Homo sapiens: one gene and its partners. The protein of the gene in region 1 interacts with the protein of each later gene in a biochemical or structural test. Each region holds a gene or a part of one and is shown in the gene's direction. Other genes may lie near its edges.

The links.
Region 2: the proteins of LIMK2 (region 1) and SBF1 interact in a test that uses a peptide from one of them, tested with the Homo sapiens proteins (one large-scale study listed by IntAct).
Region 3: the proteins of LIMK2 (region 1) and CTNNA2 interact in a test that uses a peptide from one of them, tested with the Homo sapiens proteins (one large-scale study listed by IntAct).
Region 4: the proteins of LIMK2 (region 1) and PDZK1 interact in a test that uses a peptide from one of them, tested with the Homo sapiens proteins (one large-scale study listed by IntAct).
Region 5: the proteins of LIMK2 (region 1) and FRMPD1 interact in a test that uses a peptide from one of them, tested with the Homo sapiens proteins (one large-scale study listed by IntAct).
Region 6: the proteins of LIMK2 (region 1) and ABCC4 interact in a test that uses a peptide from one of them, tested with the Homo sapiens proteins (one large-scale study listed by IntAct).
Region 7: the proteins of LIMK2 (region 1) and SMCHD1 interact in a test that uses a peptide from one of them, tested with the Homo sapiens proteins (one large-scale study listed by IntAct).

The regions. Positions count from the first base shown.
Region 1 is NC_000022.11:31,257,001-31,261,055, forward strand, and holds part of LIMK2 (LIM domain kinase 2), read left to right. Parts: intron 1-1,290; coding exon 1,291-1,426; intron 1,427-2,120; coding exon 2,121-2,230; intron 2,231-2,888; coding exon 2,889-3,077; intron 3,078-4,055. UniProt on the Homo sapiens protein: Serine/threonine-protein kinase that plays an essential role in the regulation of actin filament dynamics. Acts downstream of several Rho family GTPase signal transduction pathways.
Region 2 is NC_000022.11:50,471,900-50,476,635, reverse strand, and holds the start of SBF1 (myotubularin-related protein 5), read left to right. Parts: upstream 1-1,600; 5' UTR 1,601-1,795; coding exon 1,796-1,850; intron 1,851-4,736. UniProt on the Homo sapiens protein: Acts as an adapter for the phosphatase MTMR2 to regulate MTMR2 catalytic activity and subcellular location. Promotes the exchange of GDP to GTP, converting inactive GDP-bound Rab proteins into their active GTP-bound form.
Region 3 is NC_000002.12:79,515,652-79,519,706, forward strand, and holds part of CTNNA2 (catenin alpha-2), read left to right. Parts: intron 1-4,055. UniProt on the Homo sapiens protein: May function as a linker between cadherin adhesion receptors and the cytoskeleton to regulate cell-cell adhesion and differentiation in the nervous system. Required for proper regulation of cortical neuronal migration and neurite growth.
Region 4 is NC_000001.11:145,670,337-145,673,833, reverse strand, and holds the end of PDZK1 (Na(+)/H(+) exchange regulatory cofactor NHE-RF3), read left to right. Parts: coding exon 1-177; intron 178-813; coding exon 814-1,104; intron 1,105-2,194; coding exon of another isoform or gene 2,195-2,227; exon of another isoform or gene 2,228-2,344; coding exon 2,345-2,398; 3' UTR 2,399-2,569; coding exon of another isoform or gene 2,570-2,590; 3' UTR 2,591-2,849; downstream 2,850-3,497. UniProt on the Homo sapiens protein: A scaffold protein that connects plasma membrane proteins and regulatory components, regulating their surface expression in epithelial cells apical domains.
Region 5 is NC_000009.12:37,653,618-37,657,672, forward strand, and holds part of FRMPD1 (FERM and PDZ domain-containing protein 1), read left to right. Parts: intron 1-4,055. UniProt on the Homo sapiens protein: Stabilizes membrane-bound GPSM1, and thereby promotes its interaction with GNAI1.
Region 6 is NC_000013.11:95,022,267-95,025,879, reverse strand, and holds part of ABCC4 (ATP-binding cassette sub-family C member 4), read left to right. Parts: intron 1-3,613. UniProt on the Homo sapiens protein: ATP-dependent transporter of the ATP-binding cassette (ABC) family that actively extrudes physiological compounds and xenobiotics from cells.
Region 7 is NC_000018.10:2,700,726-2,704,780, forward strand, and holds part of SMCHD1 (structural maintenance of chromosomes flexible hinge domain-containing protein 1), read left to right. Parts: intron 1-9; coding exon 10-193; intron 194-2,966; coding exon 2,967-3,161; intron 3,162-4,055. UniProt on the Homo sapiens protein: Non-canonical member of the structural maintenance of chromosomes (SMC) protein family that plays a key role in epigenetic silencing by regulating chromatin architecture.

The DNA.
Region 1 (4,055 bases):
GCTTCATAGCCAGGTCATTAGGGGAGAAGGGAGCTATAGATTTTTTTTTTTTTTTTTTTTTTTTTTTTTTTTTTAGAGACGGGGTCTTACTATGTTGCCCAGGCTGGTCTTGAACTCCTGGGCTCAAGTGATCCTCCCACCTCAGCCTCCCAAAGTGCTGGGATTAGAGGCATCAGCCACCCCGCCCAGCGAGCTATGGATCTAACATGTACATCTTACACAGTGCTAATAGAATGTTGGGTTTCTTCCCCAATATTTTATTTTGAAAAAAAATTCAAATATATAGAAAAGTTGAAAATGTAGTTCAAAGAACACCTACATACCTTTCACATAGATTCATGATTTGTTAATGTTATGCCACTTTGTATATATCTCTCTCCCTCTATCTGTATACTTTTATTTATTTATTTTTGCTGAACTATTTCAGAGTAACTTAAAGGCATCTTGATTTTACCCTTGAACAGTTCAATATGTTTCTGCTAAGAATTCTCCTATATAAGTCAGATATCATTACATCTAAGAAAATTCACGGCAATTTTACAATATAATATTATAGTCCAAATCCATATTTCCTCAGTTGTTCCAAAAAATGTTCATGGCTGTTTCCTTTTTTAATCTAAATTTGAATCCAAGTTTGAGGCATTGTATTTGGTTGCTGTGTCTCTAGGGTTTTTAAAATCTGTGCCTTTTCTTCTCCCCATGACTTTTTAGAAGAGTCAAGACCGGTTATTCTTATAGAATAACCCACATTCTAGATTTGCCTGATTAGTTTTTTTATACTTAACGTATTTTTGGCAAGAACATTACATTGGTAACGCTGTTGGTGATGGGTCAGTTTTGAAGAGTGGAGATGATTAAACTGCTTTTGTTCATTGAAGTATCTGTCAAGACCAGAGATCCTTAACTGGTGCCATAAATAGGTTTCAGAGAATCCTTTATATATACACCCTGTCCCCCACCTAAATTATATACACATCTTCTTTATATATTCATTTTTCTAGGGGAGGCTTCTTGGCTTTTATCAAATTCTCAGAGGGCCCCAAGACCCAAAGAGGTTATGAAACACTAGTCTGTCCACTGAGGCAGGCAACACAGAGCTGGTTTCTGGGGCCTTGTTCAGTCTGAACCAGCTTCCCTTGGGGAGATAGCACAAGGCTGTAACTTTGCCCCATCTTGGCTTTGGATCAAAGAGGACTGTCCATTTTGTTGTCATACCTAGGAACCAGGGACAGCTTATGTGGCCTGGTTCCAGGGATCCAGGAGAATTTCAGTTCTTGTCTTGCCTTTCAGGTGTTCAGAATGCCAGGATTCCCTCACCAACTGGTACTATGAGAAGGATGGGAAGCTCTACTGCCCCAAGGACTACTGGGGGAAGTTTGGGGAGTTCTGTCATGGGTGCTCCCTGCTGATGACAGGGCCTTTTATGGTGAGTGAATCCCTTCATATCTGCCCCTCTTGGTCTTCAGAGTCCATTGACAGTGCTTCCAGTTCCCTGTGGCCTGTTAATCTTTTAGTCTTTCCATCAGCCAGGGCATCTCCCTTTATTTATTCATTCATTCAACTAGCAGGTATCAATTGAGCACCTACTAAGTGAAAGGTAAGATCCTTCCCTCAAAGACTTAATAGTTGAACGTTGGGAGTGGGAGGAGAGGCAGGCAGAGAGGAGACACAATATAGTTGGATAAGGACCTCCAAGGAGAGTGTTACAGGCTGAGAGGAGGATATACTTAGGTTGTCTTTAGGGAATCAGAAAAGGAGACTCTGGAATAGGCTGGCAGAGAGAGGGGCTACCTCCTATACCTGCTCTGGACAAACGACTTTAAGCATAGTGACAGACTTGCCAACCCTGTATTGGAAGAACTGATCTTTTTTAGTGGGGATGATTACTTCTGGGGATTTCTTCTCATAACTGAGACCAAAACAGTTTTGTGCAGTCTCAGAAATGACAGGAGGTACCAATCTGACACTTCCTTTGGAAGCTCTAGGGCAGAGAGTGAAAGAGTGGATTTTGACGGGGGCCTTGCTTGGAGGTCATTCACCCACCCCTGTCCTCACTCCAGCAACAGTGATAACTCACTTCCTTCCTCCCTTTGTACACCCTTCTCCCCACCTGCTCACAGGTGGCTGGGGAGTTCAAGTACCACCCAGAGTGCTTTGCCTGTATGAGCTGCAAGGTGATCATTGAGGATGGGGATGCATATGCACTGGTGCAGCATGCCACCCTCTACTGGTAAGATAGTGGTCCTTTGTCTATCCTCTCCCATATAAGAGTGGCTGGCGGGGAGGGACAGTGGCAGGGTGAGTTGGGCAGAAGGAGTGTTAGGGTAGTCAGAGCATTGGATTCTTACCACAGCAGTGCTCTTAACCAGCTCTTTAACTTGTAAGCAGAATGATTTACACATGTCTCTACCCTTTTTCCTTACCAACCTTGAAAATGTCTTCACTCTGCCCTGCAATCCTCCCAGTGGGAGGCACTCTTCAAGGACGATCCCAGAACATTAAAGTCAAAGACCCCTTAGAGCTCACCCTGTCCAACCACCTTGGTTGATAAAAGAAGTCAGCCTGGGGCCCATGGAATAGAATAGTACAAGGGCAAGGTTCTCATTGTGAGTCAAAGGTAGAGTGAAGAGAACCCAGACCATCTCACCCCAACCCAGGCCAGTGTTTTTCCAAATATACCACTTGCTGCAGATCTAGCTCAGCACCCCCAGTCCCAGCCCACCCTGAGAACCCAGGCTCCTCATTCTGAGCAGCCAGCTAGAATCATGACAAAGAGGGTGGTAGTGAGACTATGGGTACTGTTGCTTAAAGCCACATGGTGCAGTGGTTGCTGGGGGGCTTCTGTGTGGGACTCTAGCATCTTATTCCCCCCTGTGCCCTCTCCCCAGTGGGAAGTGCCACAATGAGGTGGTGCTGGCACCCATGTTTGAGAGACTCTCCACAGAGTCTGTTCAGGAGCAGCTGCCCTACTCTGTCACGCTCATCTCCATGCCGGCCACCACTGAAGGCAGGCGGGGCTTCTCCGTGTCCGTGGAGAGTGCCTGCTCCAACTACGCCACCACTGTGCAAGTGAAAGAGTAAGTATTTTGAGAACCCTTCAGCAGGGGTTCTTGAGCAGAGTCTGTAAATGGGCCTCAGAGGGCTTAGACCTCCAAAGTCTCATGCAGAACTCCCTTTATTCTCATCTCATATCTTTCTCCTGGACCCCACTATGCTGTAACCGTACCTGGGCCTTGGCACTTACTGTTCTCTCTGCCCAGGCTACTTCCTACCCGATACTTAAGGCAAGAATCACTCACCTTTCAGGTGTCAGGTTTCAGGTCATGTTTGCTCTTTGAAATCATCTGGCTTGATTATGTGTATTAGTTGTTTATCTTCTATCCCCTCCACTAGAATGTAAATTCCAGAAGAAACTTGCTGTCTTATTCAGTGCTGCATGCCCAGGGCTTGGAAGAGTACCTGGCATATAGTAGGAGTTGATTGATTATTATTTTGTCAGTCGAGAGAATGAATGGAGAAAATGTGGTCCATGGCCCAAAAGAAGTTAAGACCCTATCCTAGATTCAGGCCAGAGACCAGATGGAGAAAGAGTCTGTGTCTATCTAATACCAGTAATGTCGTACCTCTGGCCGCTTACCATGTAAATATTGATTGTGTATCTACCATGTGTTGGACACTAGGCTAGTGCTTGCACAGCAGGTGAAAGATACTAGAGTTTGGGAAGTCAGGAGGAGCTAAGGTCTGTTCTACAACCTTATTAGATGAAGAGGAGAGGGAATTGTGTTCAGGGCAGAGGGAGAAGCATTTCTCCAAAAGTAGGAGTCTTAATCATGTCTGATGTAGGTTGAGTGTGGCCAGAAAAGGGGCTGTTAAGTATAGAGGGCCTGGATTATGAAAATCCAGCAGATCCATTGAGAGTTTAAGCAGCAAGGTGTTGTGACCAAGTTAACATTTTAGAAGGATCACTGGTATGGAGGTTGGATTGGAGAGGGGAAAGCCTAAAGGTATAGAGACTAGTTAGGAAGCTATTGTAGGCTGGGCATGGTGGTTCATGC
Region 2 (4,736 bases), about 19 Mb from region 1:
TGAGGGCAGGGAGGGGACCCTGGTGGGGCCTCTCAGTTTGATTCCATTCATTCTCTTGGGCTGGCTCCTGCCCATGGATGGAGACTGGATGCCAGTCATTTGGCCAGTTCTTGCAGCAGCCAAACTCATTTAAAAACAGACCTTCAGGGCCAGGCGCGGTGGCTCACACCTGTAATGCCAGCACTTTGGGAGGCCGAGATGGGCGGATCACGAGGTCAGGAGATCGAGACCATCCTGGCTAACACAGTGAAACCCTGTCGCTACTAAAAATACAAAAAATTAGCTGGGCGTGGTGGCAGGTGCTTGTAGTCCCAGCTACTCGGGAGGCTGAGGCAGGAGAATGATGTGAACCTGGGAGGCGGAGTTTGCAGTGAGCCAAGATCACGCCACTGTACTCCAGCCTGGGCGACAGAGCGAGACTCTGTCTCAAAACAAACAAACAAAAACAAACAAAAAACAAAAAACAGACCTTCGGGCTGGGGGCGGTGGCTCATGCCTGTAATCCCAGCACTTTGGGACGCCATGGTGGGTGGATGGCCTGAGGTCAGGAGTTCAAGACCAGCCTGGCCAACATGGTGAAACCCCCTCTCTACTAAAATACAAAAATTAGCCGGGCATGGTGGTGCACACCTGTAATCCCAGCTACGCGGGAAGCTGAGGCGGGAGAATTGCTTGAACCCAGGAGACGGACGTTCCAGTGAGCCAAGATGGTGTCACTGCACTTCAGCCTGGGTGACGGATTGAGACTCTGCCTCAAAAACAAAACAAAACATAACAAAAAACAGACCTTGGCCTGCTGTGCTCAGAGGGGTTTCCCTGCTGCACCAGGCTGGCTCCTGCACCTTCTCTCCCAGCATGTTCTGCTCTGGGCTCATGCTCATCCCTGAGCCACTTCAGGGGTGGCCCTGGCCAGCCCTGCCCTTGAGAGGGGTGGGCACTGTCAGGGATCCTGGGGGATGCAGCTTTCCCAGAGCCCCCTGCTCCGTGGCCTCATGTGCCTCACACGCTTAGAACATTTGCTCTTTACAGGGGGACATGAGCGTGCCGTTTTTAAGCTGTGTTAAATGTCTCACTTGGCCTAGATGGGGGCTCTTCAGCCTGGGACCCCAAGGGCAGGGCCTGAATTCTCTCTCTGTTCCCCATCGCCAGGCTGGCAGCCCCTGAGGTGATGGCCCTGCGCCTCCTCTGACTTCTAGTTTGGGGGGCCCGGTAGGCAGCGCCTAGGCTTCTCCCGCCTTTCTCCCGCTGGACAGAGAGGGGCGGGGGACGAGGAGTCTGGGGACCCGATCCCCAGATTGGGACGGCCCAGGGGTGGGGTTCGGGCTCCTGTGCGGGGAGTCCCAACGGCGAGGGCAGCTGTGGTCCTGGCCCATGCCTCCCGCCGACACCACAGCCGACCCGGGTCAGGGCGTCAGACCCGCCGGAGCCGTAGTCCAGGTGCCCGGCCCGAGGGGCGGTGCTCGGGCCCCAGAGTGGTCAGCGATGGGCGGGGCGCTGCTCTCGGGAGCCGCCCTCCCACCCTCTGGACCAATGGAGATGCGCGGTTGCAGGCCCCGCCCGCTCAGGGCTTGACGACAGCGCGCAGGCGCACGGCGCGCCCGGGCGGGCCGGCTGGCTGGGAAGATGGCGGCGGGAACCTGGGCCGCCGCCGCCGCCGCCGCCGCCGCCGCGGAGCGAACCAGGGGTGTCCGGGGTGCGCGGTCCAGGGCCGGGGCCGGGCCATGAGCGCGCCGTCCTCGAGTCCCCGAGCCGCGGAGCCCGCCCGCGCCCCTCGGGCCGCCCCGCGTCCCTCGCCATGGCGCGGCTCGCGGACTACTTCGTGCTGGTGGCGTTCGGGCCGCACCCGCGCGGTGAGTGCCGAGGCCAAGCGCTGAGGGCCGGGGGCCGAGGGTCGAGTGCTGAGGGCCAGGGGCTGGGTCTGAGGGTCGAGGGCCGGGGGCTGGGGGCCGAGGGCTGGGGGCTGGGTCGGGAGGCCGAGGACTGAGGGCCGGGCGCTGAGGGCCGAGGACCGGGGGCTGGGCGCTGAGGGCCGGGGTCGGGGGAGCCGAGGACTGAGGGCCGGGGCCGGGGGCCGGGCGGGGACTGAAGGCCAGGGCCGACCGGACAGCCCGTGGGGAGAATGGGCGTCCGCTGGGGGCGGCGTGGCCGCGCGGGCCTGGTGGCGGCAGGGAGAGAAGGCTGGGCCCGGCCTGCCCGGCCTCCTTGGGGTGGGACGGGCTCTCTCCTTGGCCAGCTGCGGGCGGCTGTGGCTCTAGTGGCTCCAGGGGCGCGGACCCGCGGCTCGCCAGCCCGCCTCTGACCTTGGTGCTCCGTCTGAAGCCCCCGGCGGTCTTGGCGGGGTGCAAAGAGGGGGTGGAGTTCGGGTTTGGTGCATGGAGAAGCGGTGTTTGATTTGAAACTGGGAGGATTTGAGGAGGAAGCGTCGAGAGTAGAGAGAAGAGCATTCCTGGCGACTCGCCTGACGGTCCAGGCCCTGCACGCCAAGCCCTGGGTGGGGTATCAGCGTGGCGGTCGGTGCCCATGCCCAGGAGGTCTGTGTGTGGGGTCAGCGCCCGTGTCTGAGAGCTCTTCAGCCCAGGAGGTAGGAGAAAACGGAGCCTGACGATGACATCAGCAACAGCCTGGAGACAGCAGCGTTGGCGAGCGTGCTTGGTGTGCCAGGCCCCGCACAGCCCTTTGTGTACATGATCTCACCTCTTCCTCCCAGCAGCCCACCGGGGTTGCCCTGGTGTTGCCCCCATCTGTAGAGAAGTTAGGCGCGGATAAGCTGACTGCCTGGCCTGAGCCGGCTCAGAGAGGCTGGGACTGGCACTCAGGCTGTCAGATCCCAGCTGCAGACTGGCAGTGTGTGGGGATGGCTGTGTGGTCAGGCAGGGGCTGGATCTTGAGCCTGGAGGTGGGATTGAGCTTGCCTTCCCAGTTACCCTGTTTTTTGTCAGTCCAGTTGTCACTGTCCCCACCAAGGACCTGGAGTTCTCTCTTTTTTGTGTTTCTTCTGCTGGACACCCCCCTACACTTCCTGAAGCCTCTTTAGCATCTTCTTCGTCTCCAGCCCCTCCTCAGTGCCCTCTTACTCAGCACACACTCCTCTCTGCTCATGTCTATCCAAGTGTGTGTCTTATGGCACCGTCAGTCATGAGCATCTGTCTTTTTCTTTAGAGAGGGAGTTCTCGCTTGCTAGGACCACATAGTCCTCATCCCCACTGTGCAGGTTGGCTGTCAATGTTGTCTTGACCCACAGAGGGAGCTGTCTGCACCGAGGCACCTATGAGGGGCATGGAGGAGGCCTTACCACCTGGGGCAGAGGGTGCCTGAGGATCCAGGGAAGCAAGGCTGGCTGAGGGCTGTCTTGGCGTGAGGGGCCTTGGGCTGAGGGCTGGGGCGGGGGCTACAGGAACAGCTGATAATGACCCTGATGATCCTGAGGGCAGTGTGGAGAGGGTTTGGGTTGGTAGAGACTGCAGGCAAAGGCCAGGTGGGAGGCGTGGTGGCCGTGGGGTGAGGAGTTGAAGGTAGGCAGAGAGAAGAGGCAGAGTGGGCTCCACAACAAGCTGGCTGTGACGTGTGTGCTCACTGCTGGAGCCACACGTAGTGCAGGCACCTGTTTGTGTGTGTCCTTTGCGCAGGACAGGGTAGAAGGCTGGAGCCCAAGGTGCCCCCCCTTCCCCTAAGTGACCGGAAGGAGTGATAAGTGGTCCACTGCAGTAGGGTTGGAGGACCGTGGAGCCCTGTACCCACTACCTTCTGGGGTTGAGCTGGTCAGCTGCTTGCTGGCCTTGCAGCCCCAGGCACCCCTTAGAAGGACTTGTTCATTCTTGAGGGGAACAAGGCTATAGACTGGGACCCTGGTCATGGGCTGAGGGCAGAGCCAGGTACCAGGGCCGGTGGGAGCTGGGGGAAGAAGCAGAGGAGTGTGGCGTGGGGGTCACTTGTCTCTGCTTTGCCCCTTGATAGCCTTGTGACTTCGAGCCAGTTGTTTGGCTCTCTGTGCCTCAGTTTCCTCATCTGGGGATGGAGTGAGTCATGCTAACCTCCCAGGCTGCCGTGAGGATGCAGCGAATGCACAGGTGTGAAGCAGTAGCACACAGGAGGCCCTGGAAATGATGAGTTTCTTTCATTAGTGACTGAGCAGCAGGTGTGTGAACTCTCTAGGCACAGACACAACAGGCACTTCTGAGTGGGTAGAGGATCCTCTCTGTTCTGTCAGGCTAGGACTTCAGGGCGGGATGCAGGGTCTCTTGGGTTGGGGATTAGGATTGGCGGATAGCTTGTCTTGGCCTGGATCTGGACATCCTGTCTGGAGCTGCTGGGTGCAGCACCAGGGTGCTGAGGGTGCATGAGTCCTGCCTGAGGCAGCATCCCAGTTGCTAGTGGTTACCAGCTGGAAACCTCTCAGGAAAGGTGGGGAGGGGCCCTGAGAAGGTAAATGCCTGTGCTGGCCGTGACCCTTTCACCTCAGAGAGTGATGGTGGCCAGCGCTGGCCCATCTGCAGGCCCCTCACCTGGTGAGTCAGGGATCACCTTCTGTGCTCTGGGGCAGGCATCAGGACTAGACAGACTGCCTCTGCCCGGCTCTTGGCCTGATCACAGCGTGGCCAGTGCTGAGGTGTCTTTGAGAACAGGAGACACATTTGATCTGGCCCTGACCTGGCCATCGGCCTTCCATCTCCAGCAGCTGAGTGTGCATCTGCCTGGGAGGAGGGGCTGGACCCCTTGGATCTGAGAAAAAGACCTTT
Region 3 (4,055 bases), on another chromosome or scaffold:
TTAAGAGAGATGAGTACAATTAATAAAATGTGCATTTTAGAAGAGCAACTAGTGTCTTTGAAAAGCAGCTTGCCTCCTTGACTATAATCCAGTTTGCAGATAAAGACTGACTTCCTCTGAAGAATTTCATTTCTAGAGGCTTCTGTCTTTAGTTGACTGGACCTTTAAAAATACTTGATACAATAAAGAGCCAATAGAAGATCTTATGGACCCCTGTAAAATGTATTCCGGATATATTCTCTGTGTCTCCCTCCCTCAGAGCTCTTAACACCTGCCTAACCCTAGGCTGAGTGGTGTGAGGCATTCCAAGAAAGTAGAAAGAAGTAAAAGACACTCTCTTTGACCTCAGCTTACAGTCTAGTTGAGGAGAACAGGCATTTGCATGAGGTCCTATTTCACAGTGGCAAGTAACAAGATCTTTGGAGACAGCTTTAGATGTGAGTACAGGCTCTAGTTCTTAGGAGGATCATGTCCTTGTGTACAATTTAAATCTGTTTTTTCATCTATAAAATGAAAATTGTAAGGGACTCTGATTCATGGGCTTGCTTTAAAGGTTAAATGTGTTTAGCTCAGTACTTGGTACAAACAAAACATGTATTAAGTAAACATTATTATAATTAGGAGAAATCACTTAAACACATTCCAAGACCATATATGATTATGTACTAGAAAGACAGAAGCGCAAGTAAGTACTAGAGGAATTGGGAAGAAGACGGGTGTCTGTGTAGCTGGGAAAATATTATATTTGGTAGTAGCACTGGAGCTTGGACAGAGACTCCTGGGAATGATTTCATGCAGGGTGGGCTGGAACAAAAGCAGAGAGGGAGGAAAAGGCATGGTGTGTTTGAAGAACATTAGAGAGACTATTTACTGGAAGATTTGGCATACAGGTGAATGTATTGAAAGGTAGAGTACATACAGTCAGAGTAATTATACTATCACTGGGTTAAGACAACTTCTAGTGTGGGATCCATTTCATTACATAGAAGGTTCAGCTACCCATGGAGGTAGTTTCAGTTCTTTATCTCACCTAAAGCCCCATCCTGAGACATGGAATCCATGATCGGTGTCATAGTGAGGACCCAGAATATTCTTAGGTCTTTTCTTTTAACTTCAAGGCAGAGGGAAAACTTGACCTTTGCTGAACAATAAAGATTTAATATTATGGTTACTAGAACTCTCCCTCATTTTTCCTTATCCCATGAATATTCCAGGACTATATCTCGTTGTATAATAACTAAAATTATTGTATTTTGACCTATGTGAAGCCAGTACTTGTTAGGGTAATTGTATTTCCAGGGGCTTATTTACTTTTCCTAATTACAAAAGCCCCTTTTCATTGGTGTCCGAGATTATTAATAAATTCTAAATGGATGGTGCTCTTTCAGTTTTGTGGCTGTGAGACTAATGTGTGATGAGGATAGAGAGTCTAGGAAGGAATTTGCATGGAGCAGGTTAAGTATACTCTCTGTGTGGAGAGACAGATGCTCACTGGCTACATCTGTTGGCATACCTTTGTTTTTAGTTGAGGTTCATAAACTATTTTGAAAAATTTATCCATAAAATCTTTATCCAACAGCATAAGTGATATGAATTGAATTCTTTTATTCAAAAATGGATTTCCAGAAAATTTTACCCACAAGTTTGAAGTATCAGTATTTATCATGCTCATGTTTAACCCATTTTAATAGACACAATTCCATTGTTTTCTCCCAAATAGTAAAATGTTTCTCATATATTTCTGTTTTGTAGTTCAAATAATATACAAAATTGTCCTCCTGAATATTATCTTAAGATATATTAGTCATAAACACAAATATATTTCTAAAAACTAATGTAAATATACTTCTAAAAACTAACAGACCATAGACTGTAGTAGTTTTATTTTTTATGTTGAGATCTTTCTTAATTGATGTTTTAAAAATTCAGCAAATCTAAATCATACATTTTCAGATGTATTGCTGCTAGTCAGCTTTATATTATACTACCAGAGATTTTTGACATTTTTATTTTCCTTATAAGTGAATTTTTACCTCAGAGCTGAATTCTAACTCAGCCATAAATTTGCATTATATACCTCTTTGAAATTATTACTCATAACACATTTTACAAAACATAGTGATAGTCTAACTTCAGACACCTTAATTTTCTAGGGCTTTACTATTGAACACTATTTTATTTTTCCTTTTATTAATAGGCCTTATCTGCGTACACAACTATTAGACTATTACATTTCAGGTATTAGGAAAACTTGCATTAACAGGAGTGAAAAAGCAGGTATGTTCCCCATACGTGAGGGTGGTGACCAAACAGGGAGGTGGAGTAAGGATGAGACAGAATGAATTAATTGTGTTTTCTCTTTTGAGCTGAAGGATGTATAACTATCTGTTCAATTAGGGGTTTTCTAAATTTTTGCTGCGATGTCTACTATAATCTATGTTTTAGTTGCTTTAAAGTAAGTTTATATGTAAATTTCAATGAATAATTTTTAAAACTAGAGCATGGATAAAAAAGTAATATAAATCATATGTTGATTTTTCAGTATGTTGCTACTTGTAGACATCGGGCTATTTTGTTTGCTAGGCAGTTTTGGGGGAAGCCAGGTAATACATTTATGGGATGTATTGAGATGGAGATACATTAAATAAGATCCTAACTTGCTACAGTGTTTCTACATTAAATGAGTGGACATGCCAGAGGGCTAGAGATAAAAAAGTCCTTGAGTTGTATATGGTCTCAAGGGCCACAGAGCCATAATAGAAAATTAATAGAAAGCTTCTGAGATGTTCATATTCTGCAAGTTGAGTTTATGTTGTTCATTATGTATCTGCAGTAGGTCCAATATCTTTTTTATGGCCCCTTGATGTTTTGGAACTAAAACCATGGACTCTTGATGGAGCTATGTCAGTTGTTCTTCCACATCCCACCCAGAAACCACAAGGACTCCAGAAATCACCAGAGGATCTGATGTTCCCATGTTTTATTTGTAAGCATTTGGTGAAAATTCAGTCTTCCAAGTTTATCTTAAATTCATAGGGCCTGAAGCAGTTGTTAAATATCATCAATCTATCTTTCAGTGAGGAAGTAGCAATGTCCCTTAACTACTTTATAAAGAGCTAATTGTACTCAATTGTTTCCGGGAAAGGGTATCCTACAGTCTTTTAGAGTTTACCACTTCATTCTGTTTCTTCAGGCGTTGATAATTGCCAGAGTAATTTCACAAAATATGTTTTTTTTTTCTAATATGTGGAAGTGGCATAAAGAAGTGTATACAAGACTCAAATTTCCTGGGGAAGCCCAGGCGCAGTGTCTCATGCCTGTAATCCCAGCACTTTGGGAGGCTGAGGCAGGCACATCACCTGAGGCCAGGAGTTTGAGACCAGCCTGGCTAACATGATGAAACCCTGTCTCTACTAAAAATACAAAAATTAGCCAGGCATGGTGACGGGCGACTGTAATCCCAGTTACTTGAGAGGCTGAGGCAGGAGAATCGCTTGAACCCAGGAGGCGGAGGCTGCAGTGAGCCGAGATGGTGCCACTGCACTTCAGCTTGGGCGACAGAACAAGACTCCGTCTCAAAAAAAAAAAAAAAAAAAGAGTCTTGGGGAAAAATAAATCTGTGTCTAAATTCATCTCTCTACTGCACTTATGCCTTTCATGTATTTTTTTTATTATATTACCTAGCATGAATTCATTCAACAGGTATTTTTTGAAAATACCTGCTCTGTGCTCAATGCTCTCATTGAGCTAGAGATTATAATTTTATAAGCACACTGAACCAAGGCAACTGGATTCCCCTCCAGGTTTTCAACCAGCTAATTAATTTGTTATGTGATTAAATAAGCCTCAAACTCTCCAACACTTATTTATTTTATCTGCCTTTTGAGTGACTTAGACTTATATCTAGCTATAAAATTCTATAATTCTACATGTGTTTTTTTCTTAAAATTTCAAGGCAAATGATTTGTTTTCATTGTGTTCCATTTGTTTTTTCTTTTGAAACATAAACTTCTGCTGCATAAGGAAAAAAAAACTTCACCTTCAGTGGCATATGC
Region 4 (3,497 bases), on another chromosome or scaffold:
GGCTCTGTCAAGGAGGCTCCAGCTCCTACTCCCACTTCTCTGGAAGTCTCAAGTCCACCAGATACTACAGAGGAAGTAGATCATAAGCCTAAACTCTGCAGGCTGGCTAAAGGTGAAAATGGCTATGGCTTTCACTTAAATGCGATTCGGGGTCTGCCAGGCTCATTCATCAAAGAGGTATGGTAATCTGGTTCCAGCAGCCCAACAAACACAGCCACAATTAGGATAGTCTCAGCTTTTCCCACCCATTGATGGCTTAGTAGAGAGGTTCCATTGAAGGCACACACTGAGGGGTCTCACTTGGGTTCAGATAAATGTTGTCATGGTCCCACACCCTTTAGGTTAGCTACCAGTACATCATAAGCTCACGTTTGTTTGTTTCCCAAACATCTGTTCCAAACAGTGTGAGTTGACTGAACTCTAGTTGACAGTCACTATCAACCCTGATTGGCAGTCATATTTGTTTGCTTCTGTGCATTTGGCATAATGCCCCTTACCCTGTAGGGACTGATAAGAATCCCTAAAGCTTTCAAGTTGGGAGTGAAGAAGGGGGACCTATTTATCCCCCTTCATCCCAGAAGACATATGATGCTGAACCACTATTTATAATACCACTAATCATGTGAATATGGAAGTTATAGCCTTCATAAATATAAAAGCATTAGAACACCTTTCTCAACTTCTATACCTCAAGGAGAAATAATAACATGATTAAAAATAAATTCTTGAGCTCCTCATCTATTCTCTTAAGGAGAGCTAGTCTGATGTCCCCTTCTCTGTTTGAAATTGATAACTCAGAACTTCTGTTCACAGGTACAGAAGGGCGGTCCTGCTGACTTGGCTGGGCTAGAGGATGAGGATGTCATCATTGAAGTGAATGGGGTGAATGTGCTAGATGAACCCTATGAGAAGGTGGTGGATAGAATCCAGAGCAGTGGGAAGAATGTCACACTTCTAGTCTGTGGAAAGAAGGCCTATGATTATTTCCAAGCTAAGAAAATCCCTATTGTTTCCTCCCTGGCTGATCCACTTGACACCCCTCCAGATTCTAAAGAAGGAATAGTGGTGGAGTCAAACCATGACTCGCACATGGCAAAAGAACGGGTGAGTGGGGGCCTATTTCTTTTCGTGATCTAATTTACTAGAGTATGGGTACAGTCCCTATGAGTATATTTAATGTCTATGTTTGCCACAGATTTTTTTAAAACTAGAAAATGAAAATGTAAAGATAACTAACAAATCAAGTTATTGTAGAGGACAGGAGGCAGTATAAGAACAACAAATTTCTTACTTTCATAGCATGCAGCTGACAGCAACTGTCTAGAGCTAATAAATCAAGAAGTAAAAAGTTTATCAGTATTGTAATGGGAACCCCCAAAAGAGCCTGAATCGGATGATCTAGATATGAATTCTGGTTCTGTCATTTGTCAGCTGTGGGGAAATGGATTTATTTGTTCTGTTCCTCAGTTTTCCCACCCATAAAACAGGAATAATTTGTAGGATTGTTATCAGGATCATGTTAACTAAGATTAACTATATTAAAGTGCTTTGAATAGTGGCTGGCTCATAGTGAGCATGTAAGTGGTGACGGTTAAAGACAATATTGTTTAAAACAACTGACAGGTAATCCAGTTTTATTACTAGGAAAGATTAAGCATTCTCTATATTATTCTCTATATATTTGGATTAAATTTCTTGGTAAGTCTCAGTTTTATATTTTTGCCCAATTTTTCATAGATGAACTTGAGGTCGAAAAGTAAACTGACTTATCCAAGTTCATAAAGGAAATTTATAGCAAAGCCGAGACTCTAAAAAAGTTTAATTCAATGTTGTTCTTCTTTCCATTATATTAATTCTGCTAATGGGTGGAATATTCATTTTAATAAACTCAGTTTAATGAACACACACAATGCCCACTGATTTGTATTCAGGAATGCTTAATAAATACTATTAGTTGTATTAGTTGTCATTTAAAAATTCTGTAATTTCTCTTTAGGAAGTCAATATCCTAGTCTTATAAAAAAGAAATATACACAGACATTAAGGAATTTGTTAATGTGTCAAACAGCAAGTTGAAAACAATCAAGTGTAGAATTCAGGTCACCTGACTTCTAGTCATACCCAGATCATCTGATTCAGGCTCTTCTGGGGGTTCCCATTACAATACTGATAAACTTTTTACTTGATTTATCAGCTCTACACAATTGCTGTCAACTGCATGCTGTGAAAGAAAGAAATTCTAGTGAGTGACTCTACTCCCCGACTTAAGTCATGCAACTCTAGAATAGATCATCCCTCTTTCATTACTCTACCATTTGTAAATTCTTTGTTTTCTTATACACAGGCCCACAGTACAGCCTCACATTCTTCTTCCAATTCTGAAGATACAGAGATGTGATGAAAACAAGTAATAGCTTTGGCTGTTTATTTGATAGCTGTTTCTGGGTATTTAATAGGAATCCTTTCTCAAGGAATGAGTTGTGACCTGTTTACTGTCTCTTTAGAAGAAAAACTCCACTGGAAACCATTCACCATGTGTGATTGTCTTCTGTTATCATTTGTCTTACAGGCGGCTATTGCAGACGGCTAATTTATGCTTAACTTAGGAAGAGATAAGGCAAGAGCTAGATTTTTTTCATGTGATCTTTTCCAAGCTTCAACTTAACTTAACTACATTTCTCTGTATGATGATGTCTCTTACTTCTACAGGTTCCTTGAGCACCAAAGATGATTCATAACTCTGTATAGGTGACAGCTGCTTATAAAAGCATCTTAGCAGATAAGCCTATTAAAATTGTGCTTTTGTAACAATGTTGTGGTTGCTAGAATAAATACCATTAACAAATGCCTTTTGAGTATGCTTGATAGTGCTTTTGTTTTGGATTCACTTTTTATGCTTTAACCTTCATTTGCCTCTAGAAACCCAAAACACAATAAAGTACAGAATAAGACCTTAGTAATAAAATTCAGAATTTTCTTAAATTGCATGTCTGAGTGTTCTAAAAATTTTTCAACATTTCCCTTTCACAAGTGACTTATTCCCCCAGTTAAGTTATTCACGGTTTCACCCCACAGCGTGAGGGGCAGATAGAAAAAAAAAAAAGGAAACATCACTACCGAATTGAAAGTAGGGTATAATACTAAGTTCACAGGAAATCAAGAAAAAATGACATACCTGAAATCTCTCTTTTGGTAAAATCTATTTCAGGTGCATACCACCCCTTTCCCGGAAAAGAACAGATAACCTCTTTCTTGGTTATTTTAATGGGGCAGGATCAGATGAGGAGGTGTGGGATGCTAACTGATGTTAGATCACACAAGCATAATAAATACCAAGCTATGCTTGATAAAATGAACGTAAGGCAAAAGTGTTACAGTCTCTGATTTTAATGAGTCAATCTCAAGGCAAAGCTATAACCTTTTCCATGTGAACCTTAAAACGGAAATCCTACGTGTTTGGCTCAGCTACCATAGACATGTCTTGCCCCAGAGTTCCA
Region 5 (4,055 bases), on another chromosome or scaffold:
TACTCAAGGACCCAGATTGGTGGGGGAGGGGGGCAGATTTGACAGACACAGCTCTAAATATATCAGCTTTGTCCATATAGCTGGGAGCGGGGTACTGGCTCCCTTCTGTCTTAGATTTGCAGTGGTCAAAGAATAGGATACAACCTGGGTAGCATAGTGAGACCCCATCTCTACAAAAAATTTACAAATTAGCTGGGTGTAGTGGGTGTGCACCTGTGGTCCCAGCTACTTGGGAGGCTGAGGTGCTGAGGTGGGAGGATCACTTGAGTCTCACTCGAGACTGCGGTGAGCTATGATCAGGCCACTGCACTCCAGCCCGGTCAAAAGAGTGAGACTCCATCTCTAAAAAAAAGAAGACAGAGGGTGAAGAATAACATTGCAATACCTTATGACCCTGTGTAGCACTATGTAGCATCTATGGTACTGTCCTTCATTTTTTCAATCAATGGTTGTTCATAGAACACCTGCTCTCTGCCAGAAAATTGTTCTAGGTGCCTCGAGAATACATCGGAACAAAAGGCAAGGTCTCTACCTTCCTGGAGTTTATATTCTAGTTGGAGAAAATAATGAAGAAGTCATTACATAAATAAGGTAACTACAGGTTGTGCCAAAGGCTGGGAAGAAAATAAGTGGGGAAATGTGGGAGAAAGTAGTAGGAGTGGGACTCCATTGGAGGGTGGTCAGGGCAGGCCTATCTGAGCCAGTGAGAGCCACAGGAGAGAGGGAGCCAGTCTTGCCTGGAGCTGGGTGAGGGTCAGTGCAGCAGCTCTGTATCTGTAAGAGGTAGGGTAGTTCTGTGTATGAGAATGCAGACTCTGGGGCCACACCACCTGGATTTGAATACTTGCCCCTTGGCTAACTAAATATATTCCACTATCAGGTTATTTAATCTTCTGAACTTCAGTTTTTTCATCTGTAAACTAGGGATAATAACAGTACCTCCTTGAGAGGGTTGTTGGATAACTGAATGAGTCGATACATGTAAAGTACTTAGAATAGTGCCAGTTATGTAGTAAGCACCAAATAAAAGTTCAATTGAGGGTGAGAGAAGGAGGAAACTGTTCCAGGCTGAAGGAACAGCAAATGCTAAGGCCTGGAGGCCTGAAGGGGCTTGGTGCATGTACAACTAGACAGTCTGTGTGCACAGGTATTATCCTCACAGTTATCGGGGAGACTCAAGAGCAGGCTCTCTGCCCCTTCAATACAGAATTATATATTTTAGGAATTTTGAAGAAATGACCACCCACAGCACTTTTCACTTGCAGGATCAGGCCGAGTGGTGTGGTGAGCTGCTGCTGCTGCTGCTCCTGCTACAACTTCGGGGACATTGCACAGTAGACCCTTCTTTAGGATCTCTTTCCCTCCCTCCTTCCCTGCCCCCGGAGGTGCTCATTGATGCATAAAGGGAAAGCAAGAGTGGAGCTGAGCCCCTGGTGCCACCAGCCCTGGTACCAAAATACTGGCTGTGCCCGCTTGCTGCGGGGTACCCTTCAGCCATCATCCCCTCCTCCTCCCAAGCTGGAAACTACAGCAGGGGAGGCTAATTGTCTGTGCCTTCTCCCTTGTTCCCTCCTTACTGAAATCTACTCAGTAAGGACCAAGTGACCTTGCCCTGTAAAGTAACAGTGACCAAGCCCTGTTATTTTTACTTCCAAAATCTCTCTCAAATATGCCCCCATCTTTCCATTCTCTCTGAGCATCAGGCTTCAGTGCTCTGTACTGTAAAGTGTGGCTCTGATCTCATCATGCTCCTCCTTAGAGCCTTTCAGTGGGTCTTCCCTGTATGGATACTGAAGTCCCGAGTCCTCAGCCCAGCAGGCATGATGGGCTACCTCCATCCTTTCTCTCACACCCCCTCCTCTGCACCATGTCCCCACTCTTTTTTTTTTTTTTTTTTTTTTTTTGAGATGGAGTCTTGCTCTGTTGCCCAGGCTGGAGTGCAGTGGTGCGATCTCGGCTCACTGCAACCTCTGCCTCCCGGGTTCAAGCAATTGCCCTGCCGCAGCCTCCTGAGTACCTGGGACTACAGGCACCTGCCACCATGCCCGGCTAATTTTTGTATTTTTTCGTAGAGACGGGGTTTCACCATATTGACCAGGCTGGTCTCGAACTCCTGACCTTGTGATCCACCCGCCTCGGCCTCCCAAAGTGCTGAGATTACAGGCATGAGTCCCCGTGCCCAGCCTCCCAACTCTTAATCCCCCTAGCCTCAGGTCTCTAGGCCTTTGCTCCCCCGTCTAGCCCCTCTGTCTAGCATGTGCTTTAGCCTTGGTGGTCCTGCCTATGCCTGAAGGCTAAGCTCAAATCCTACCACCCTTAGGAAGCTGTCTTCCAGATCCCCTCATCCCAGGGATTTCACTGTTCCCTGATACTTGGTACCTCTCATGGAGAAGTCATTACTGTCAGCCTTGAAGGATTTTGTGTGCGGTCACTTGTGTATGTGGCCACAGCTCATAGAAAGCCCTTGGGAGGGCCGGCACAATGTCCTTCATCTTTCTACCCCACAACCCTTTTCACAGAGCCTAGCCCTAATGCAAGCTTGATAATGGTCTGTATCGGATTGACAAAAGCCTGTGATTTTCCCGATATCTGAAATGGTTTGAGTCAAGCCAGAAACATGAGGCTGATGCTTAGGGGTTGCATATGGTTGTCAGCTGAACTCACTCGTGGCATTCTGATCCCTCAAGATGTAGCTCCTTCATTTGATGATGGGTTGATGCAACCTCTAAGATGAGTCTGAGTTTTGAATTTAGCTTTTCAGTGTGCCTATTTTAAAGGAATATACTGTGTAAAATTTGAACCTTGAAGCTTTTGACAATCATTCTTTATATTATAAAAGCGTTCCTTACTGTAAAAAAGATCAGTATAGAAAGCTTTCAAACACCAAATATACCTATGCACTTAACACCAATCAATGTATAAAATTTTGGTTTATCCACAGCTATTGTAGTTGTACTTTTACTGTATCCTGAGATATACACTAAACTTAATATATGTTCATGGAAGCAGTACTAACAGTGGATTAAATTTGTTTTGGTAATTACAGATTACATTATACAGGTTTGCAAATCTGAGACTTTTTTTTTTTCAGTTAACTATCTGCCTGAAGGACAGTGGGAAGCCGGACTAGGTGCTTGGCAGATTGATATGAGGGCAGAAGCCATTATTTTCATTAAGTGACACAGTGTTTTCAGGAACTCATCTGATGTTTAGAGACCTTTTTGCCAGCAGTTAGAAGTGGTTTGGGCCACCAATCCTTTCCCAAGCTGGCTGCTAAATGGTATGTGGCCTTAATATTAGTTGTTTTGGTGAAAAAGAAAAAAAAAAACACTAATTACAAGTTGGAAAAGATAAGATGGTAAATTTAAAAGTTCTTTTGACCTCTTTCAAGGAATGATCTGAGAACCTCAGCTGCTTCAGTAAAAGGGTGATATGGCAAAATTTCAAAATCCTGAATGGAAAGAGCTTCAGAGGAATTCATCTGGATGCAACAGTGCATCATTCTCTGAGATTTTTGACTTAAGAGAAGACAGATGTGCAGGCAGCTGAGAAATGCTGTGCTTCCTGTTCTTTGAGTATCTAGAATATAGGGTGTAGGCTACAGCTTGTATTAAAACCAACGATAACAATCCCACCTCCCCTGCCAGTTGAAACCCCTGTCTGATGCTGACTTGTAACTATTCACATGTGAAGCTTCTGAGTTACTGCTTTGTTGTTTTCTTTGCTCCAATGTAGAATTCAGAAGGATGCAAAAGGAAAAACAATTATTAAAGACGAGGATGGCATTTATTCGTTCTTATAAAAATAATTTATTTAGTAGCTGCAGTCTCTGTTCTCTCTGGCTTTCCCTGGAAAAAGACACCACTCCAGACTGTCCAGGGCTCCCCTGGTACCTGTGAATGTGCTGTTAGTTCCTGGTCTGGTTAGAAGATGATGTCTCTGTGGAGATACATACTTGGCCTCTTTCTTTCTCCCTGGGGTGAGGGACATTTTATGTATAGGAGATGGAAGAATAGACGGTCTCTTTCTCAAGCTCATTCCTGGTTATTTTCAGT
Region 6 (3,613 bases), on another chromosome or scaffold:
TCATGTTTCAGCATCTTCTGTTGCTCTGCCATGTTTTCCTGTATTTTTGTATCTCTGTTATGCACAGCCTGATCATTCTGCTGCATTTTCTTTGAATGAATTATATTCATAAACTCTATGTGCTCAACATTTGTCATGTGTTTATCTTACTTCATTTCTTATTTGTATAATCTCCAGGCCCTGTACTACTCTTAAAATTATAATAATAATTTTTATTATTCCTACTCCTCACCTATGACTAAAACGAACTCTTCCTAGACCAGATAGTTACAGGATAGTTGTGGCTAGGGCCTTGTTTCTGGCTAAAGGGAATTTTCTGTGCTTAATGTAGAAGTACTTTATGACCCAGAGAGGCTGCGTGTGTGGTGGGGGGGATGCAGGGAGGGATGTGAGTGTGTATGTGTATGGGTGTGTGGGTGTGTGGGTGTGTGTGTGGGTGTCAGGGGATGTGGGTGTGTATGGGTGTGTGGTGGGGGTATGTGTGTGGGGGTGGGAGGGTGTGTGTGGGGTGTGGGTGTGTGTGGGGGTGTGGGTGTGTGTATGGGTGTGTGGGTGTGGGTGTGTGTGGGGGGTGGGCGTATGTGGGTGTGTGTGGGGGTGTGTGTGGGGGTGTGGGGGTGTGTGTGTGTGTGGGTGTGTGTGTATGGGTGTGTGTGGGGGTGTGTGGGGGGTGTGGGGGTGTGTGGTGTGGGTGTGTGTGGGTGTGTGTGTGTATGTGAAATTGAGAGTGCATGTTTTGCCTTTCTTCCTCCTTAGCTTACAGAATTGGGCAATTGCAATCTGTCTTCTGTCAGGACCTCACCAATGTACATAGGTCAGTCAAAGATGTTTCTAATTGATTCTTTATTGACATACCTTAGCGCTCCTCCAATTAACTGGAGAATTCCTATGATTGTTGAGGCTTGCTCTTCATAGACATCTTCTCAGCCTTGCCACAGCCCCATTGGTTCCAGTTGCATATGGCAGCCCTTCATGATATTTTACCATTCAGGCTCTCCTGATTTCACAAAGATTTAGCTTATTTTTTATTAATGAATATCTTTGATGTTCAGAGTGGTTTCTGAAAGGAAAAGGAGAGGAAATTCATTACTCCATTATATTAAAAGCAGAAGTCCTTTCTAAGTCTCCATTACTCTTTGACAATATGCATGCCAATTATGTACACCAAAATTAGACTGGCTTTAAAAATGATGAACTTGAGGCCTTGAGAGTTACTGTGATTGAATTAGGGCCATACACATCAGTAAAAATGAACTGACAGGGTCTTGAGCCTGAATTCAACACATCAGATGGTATCTTAGGAATGCAATGTCAATCAAAGCCCAGTTGCTCTCCTTTGTCCACGTGCGGGAGCTTGTATTGCTCTGTTGATTTTAGTAAAATCTAGCTCTGTTACGGTGGCTTTACTGATGAGTTAGAGTTTAAATATGAACTTAGTTTCAACCTACATTAGAGGAACTATAATGGAGCAAACTCAAGAGAAGAAGGAAAAGAGGGACAAGGTTTCCCATACTCACTGACCTGATACTCTTCTTGCCGCAAACGTGAACGCTTATGGCATTGTCTCCCTTAAGCTTCACAGTCCTTCTGAACTGCTGTTATTATCCCCTTTTGACACATGAAAATGCTAAAGTACAAGAAGCTGAGTAACTTTTTTTTTTTTTTTTTTTTTTGAGACAGTCTCTCACTCTGTCACCCAGGCTGGAGTGTAGTGTTGCAGTCTCGGCTCACTGCAATCTCTGCCTCCTGGGTTCAAGTGATTCTCCTGCCTCAGCCTCCCGAGTAGCTGGGACTACAAGCGTGCACCACCATGCCTGGCTAATTTTTGTATTTTTCGTAGAGATGGGGTTTCACCATGTTGGCCAGGCTGGTCTCAAACTCCTGACCTCAAGTGATCCACCTGCCTTGGCCTCCCAAACTGCTGAGATTACAGGTGTGAGCCACCACGCCCAGCCTGAGTAAGTTTTCAAAGCCACCAGTTCAAAAGTGTTCATACTCCATCTTCTATGATCTTTCAGTTCTACCTTTCTGCCTCCCAGGTTACCATATTCATTCAGTTGAAATTGTCTCAGCCACAGCTTTGGGATTCTGTAAAGATAAAAGATGCACCAGAGGGATTCCTAAATGCTTTGTCTTCATCCTTCGAGCTGGGCGATACCTCCACGTTCTGTGTGCTTAGGGGCCACTTCTCTGAGCAGCATTCATCATGACACCCAACACTAATGCAGCAGGTTTTCAACCTGTAGTTTGTAGCCATTAATCAGTTCCTGTGACGTAAGCTATTGTTATCTCATGTTACAGATGAGGCAGCTGGTAGAGAGAGTGGTTAGGTAATTTTTCCAGAATCAGCAGTGAATCCAGGAGAGAGCTGAGACTGGACCTGTCTATCCCAGACATAGCTTACAACATGAGGGCTTTGCTAAAAGTAGTTCAGTAATCTCAACTCCCTTCATCACCTGCACTGTAAAAAAGATGTTTCATCTCACCTGTGCTGTTACCCATAGTGTGTTATAAAACCTGGTAGCAGAAGAGAAAAAGAAAGGTCAAATCAAAGAATATATACACAGGAAGTTTGTTTTTGACTAAGTATTTCAGACCATGAAGCTAAGACCATTTGGGTTTAAAGTTGCTAATAACAACACTTTCTTTATATATATTTAAAAAAATACATCAAGAGGGTTACACAGAAGGAAGCAGCCTATTTGGGGAAGGCTATCAAGCAGTAGAAAGTGATGTGAATGTCTATTTGTTCTTTTGGCTGTTTTTAGTTTCACTACAGAATAGCCTTTTTGGAGTACATAAATCTATAACCACACAAAATATGGCTAGCTTAAAAAAGTGGGAGAGGGAGATGATATGAAATTATCCCCTGAAAAGTCTTACTTTTGAACACTTGCATTATAATGGAAATAGCCTCAGATTTCTTCTGGTGGCATTCCAGCATTATTGGACAATTTATTTTCTCCTTAAGTGACATTTTAGTACATTGTGTGTTATATGTAATGATATTTCTGGAGTAACAAGTGTGCAAGAAGTGAGAGAAAAAGAAAGTACACTTAATATGTAGGCAGGTGTCTCAGCACTTTCTTTTTTGTACGTGAATCCCATTATCTCCAGTGATAACTTTGTTGACAGCACCCACCAATATATTCAGAGCAAGGTTTTATAAAATAGATCCAGAATCGTATGACTAAGAGACCCAGGTGACACGTGTCAGCCTCAGATAGTTGCTACATTTTCTGTTTTAAAGATTCAAACAAAACTTTTCACATTCTTCTTTGGGGAAAAAAAATTACATTTGAAGTCCTTTTTCACCCAAACACGTTTTGAGATAAGAGCTCACAAGTCTTGACATTATTTCATTTTGTTATGCGCATCTGTCAAGGAACCAAGATACGATACAGCTACTAAAAACTGATGATTGTGGAACAGAGAAACTTGACAGCATTTCATTTCCTTTATGTTCTGATTATACGTTTATCAGAAAACCTGTATCTCTTCTAGTTCAGCTAGAAATTGGTAGAATTCAGGAACTCAAAGGCTTGGCAAAGAACTGTCCTATTATTTGGTATCATCTTACATTTTAGAGAAGTTGCTTGGTTGAGTCATTGTT
Region 7 (4,055 bases), on another chromosome or scaffold:
CTGTTCAAGCTTTGACTGGTGTACTCCTCCTAAGAAGAGAGGGCTTGCACCAATTGAATGCTACAATAGGATATCTGGTGCATTATTCACTAATGACAAATTCCAGGTCAGCACAAATAAATTGACGTTTATGGATCTTGAGCTAAAATTGAAAGATAAGAACACCCTTTTTACAAGGATTTTAAATGGACAGGTATGATTTTTAAATATAAAGTTGTGAATATTTGCAAATGTTTTATTTTTAAGTAAAAGAAGACACTAGCAGTGTAGGTTTTTATTGATATTTTGCATCAAAAGACTATGATGTATAAATTTTTTTATGAGCAGTCAAGTGTTCACATTACTAAAAAATTTAAAGCTAATTTTTTAGTAATGACTAAACCTACCTAGTAAAGACTAGGTTTGGATAGAATTTACATATCTTCATTAGTTTTTTTTGTTTTTTTTTTTTTAAGACAGGAGTTTCACTCTGTTTCCCAGGCTGGATTGCAGTGGCTCAATCTCAGCTCACTGCAACCTCTGCCTCCCAGGTTCAAGCTATTCTCCCGCCTCAGCCTCCCAAATAACTGGGACTACAGGTGCGTGCCACCACGCCTGGCTAATTTTTGTATTTTTAGTAGAGATGGGGTTTCACCATGTTGGCCTGGCTGGTCTCGAACTCCTGACCTCAGGTGATCGACTTGCCTTGGTCTCCCAAAATGTTGGGATTACAGGCATGAGCCATCGCACCCAGCCAAGATCTTAATATCTAGCCCTTGACATAGTAGAAGCCACAGAAGCATCTTAATGAGAACATGTATGAACAATTGTATTTGCTTTAAGGGCTATATTTGTATATTAATAACCTAGTTGTGCAATTTTTAGCTAGTCTTGAGGGTAAAAATGGGGTAAAACTGTGAAGTACTTTGAGCTAAAAGGTGATTTGAGATTGATCAGTATTAAAATACATGTATTGATTAATACAACAAGAATGATTTCACTTTGAAATTTGTTACAAAGTTGAGTGAAACTAGTATACTAGTGTACTTGTATTCTGTGAACAGACCTCAGAGACTTTTGATACTACTCTTTCAGTAGTTTAATGTTGAATTGCCAAGAAATAGATGATTTTATTATCAATTTATTGCTGGGCAATAAATACAGTGCATAGTACATAGTATTTGTAGTCAGTCAGTCCTGTAAGATGTTGAAATTAATTTTGCTCTTATAAAGCTTGTGAATCATAGAAGATTAGGACACTTTTAAGAATTATACACCGAGAAAGACCTTATCAAAATGAGTTACTACTCCTTTATAATACACTTAGAATTCATTTATAATATGGTGTTAGTTATCCAACATTTATTGAGCAGTGGGTGTTTTCAAAAGCTATCCAGAATAAGTTAATTCTATTCCTTTGTTACACTGTACTTTTAAAATATATATTTTCTAATTTTGAAACATTCAAGCTGCGCATAATGGTTCACACCTGTAATCTTGGCTACTTGAGAGGCTGAGGCAGGAGGATGGCTTGAGGCCAGGAGTTCAAGACCAGCGTGTGCAATACAGTGAGACACCTTCTGTATTTAAAAAAAAAAAAAAAAGAAGGAAATGTTCAAATACACAGAAAAGTTGAAAGAATATTATAAAGTGAATATCTGCATACTTTTCCCCTAGGTTACCTGTCACCTTGACATGCCTTCTGAATTGTACTTTGACTGTTACTGAGTGTCTGGAATTAATGCATTTGGTAATTTGTTTGGTTGATAGTGAATCCATCCTGAGAGTTTTAGAAGGGTAGTTTAACATTTTGGTTGTCAGACTTTCTGGTTCCTAGTTACTAATTTAATCTCCATGTCAGCTGGCAAACTGACAACAATGATTTGCTGATTTGGGAAAGAGTTGGTACCTAGTTATAGGAGTAAGTGTGGCAGCAATTTCCCAGAAACTGTATACCATATTGGACCTGTGAGTCTTTACCATGTATATATATTTCCTTTTTCATTCATATAACTTTAAAAAAATCAAATTTATTAATAACTAAGATAGTATCCTTCTTGACAGCAAGCATCAAAAACTTAGGCTGAAATTATTTTTAATTTTGCCTTACTTTCCTTTGGAAATGGTATATTATGGTATAAGGTACGTAAGAAGGAATGGAGTTCTGTAACTTTACAGACTGTCCTCTGCGAAAGCATGTAATGGGGAGATTGTCTTACCTCCTCATTGCCCTAGAGGCAGGCATCAAACAAGTGTATAGCACCTTATGCTTGAATACAGATTTCTGTATTCTCTCCCAACAGGGTGAAGAATGGTTGGCAAAAACACATCTTCTTAAGTATTATTAGAAAACACTTCAGTTTTATGAGTTTATTTTTTGGATAGGCTCTATATATAAAAGAGAAAATTAAAAAGAAAAGTACATTTTGCATAGCAGTGTTTCTCAACCTTTTTTCGTTATCACCCTCATAAGGAGTCTTTCTTGGCATCTTTTTCTCAATTGTTTTCCCCAATGAAATTTTACTACTGCAGATTTACCATCTATCTGTTTGTATATTGTATTCACGTTTATAAAGTACTTGATACACAATGAGATTTTTATCGTCCCATTGAGAATGTGGTTTACAGTTAGAAGGCCTCCACTCATCCCTTTTGTGGAGCTAGCTAGTTCTCCTCCCAGGCAGTAAGGGTTCATCAGTTTTTAGTGTATCCTAGGAATTAAAGGCGGAAAGGAAGGTTTTATTGTTGATATTGACCAGGGATACCTTGGTTCTAAGAATAATATCAAATTTTTCTTCTTTGGTAATGCATTTGTTTGAAATATCCTAAATGTGTACAGAGGAAGGATCCAGCAGAATATTTAATTTTTTATTAGGTTTTCTGAATTGGAGTATATGAAAGGAAAAAAATAAAATGAATGACAAATGTTTATGGTTATATTTGTTTGCTAGTAGCTATATTTCATAAAACATTTTAAAATTCTACAGGAACAGCGAATGAAAATTGACAGAGAATTTGCTTTGTGGCTGAAGGACTGTCATGAGAAGTATGATAAACAAATAAAATTTACACTTTTTAAGGGAGTAATTACACGTCCTGATCTTCCTTCTAAAAAGCAAGGTCCCTGGGCAACATATGCAGCAATAGAATGGGATGGAAAGATATACAAAGCAGGACAGCTGGTAGGTTTAACTTATTGTCACTTTTTTCTTATAATTTTTAATTTAATTTAAAACACATATGCAGAATCACATGTATAGAAAATAAGCTATTTTTAAAAATTTCTTTTTTTCCCATTCTCACATTTCATGAAGAACATTTATTCAGACTCTTCACAGGCCTGTTTGACATCAGTGTCTTCCATCATCTCTAAGGAAATTTAACTTATTTTTAGATTCAATTTTTAGTAGAAGTTGAGACTAAATTAGATGTATTAAAATTTAACAACAGTAACAACAAATAATGCAAATATTGGCTCCTCAGGAGCTAGGTAAGAATGAAAAGGACAAACTGATTTTAAATTCCATAATTTATTATAGCATTAAAAAAACTATTGCCAGAGGCTCAATTAACAAGGTTTTTATGGTTTCCTAAACTAAACTTTACTCACATGGAGATCTCAGTGTTTTTTGTTTGTTTGTTTGTTTTTAATGTAATGCGTTAAGTAATGATTTTTAAGTATTTTTTTGTTGAGCATCTGCTGACATAGTAAGTTACTGCACCTTTTGACTGTGTGGTGGAGAATTCAGAGATATAGGAGATGTGCTTTGCTCTTGGTGATATTATATCCTAGCAATGGGGATAGTGTAAGCATAAATAATAGGTAAGAAGTGGATCAATGCAATGGAAAGAAAGGATTAATAGTGTTTTGGCAGGTTAGAAGGAGAGAAGAGGAGAGGATTTTTTTTTTTTTTTTTTACTTTGGTTGGTCGTGTGGGCTGGAAGAACAGAGCAGATCGTTAAATACTTTGGAAAAGAAGTAACATTTGTGTGGACCTTGAAAGGGGTAGAGGCTCAGGTTTACACAGATAATTACAAGGTAGAAGGCTCTCTGTTCTCTCCATAAATGAGAGATA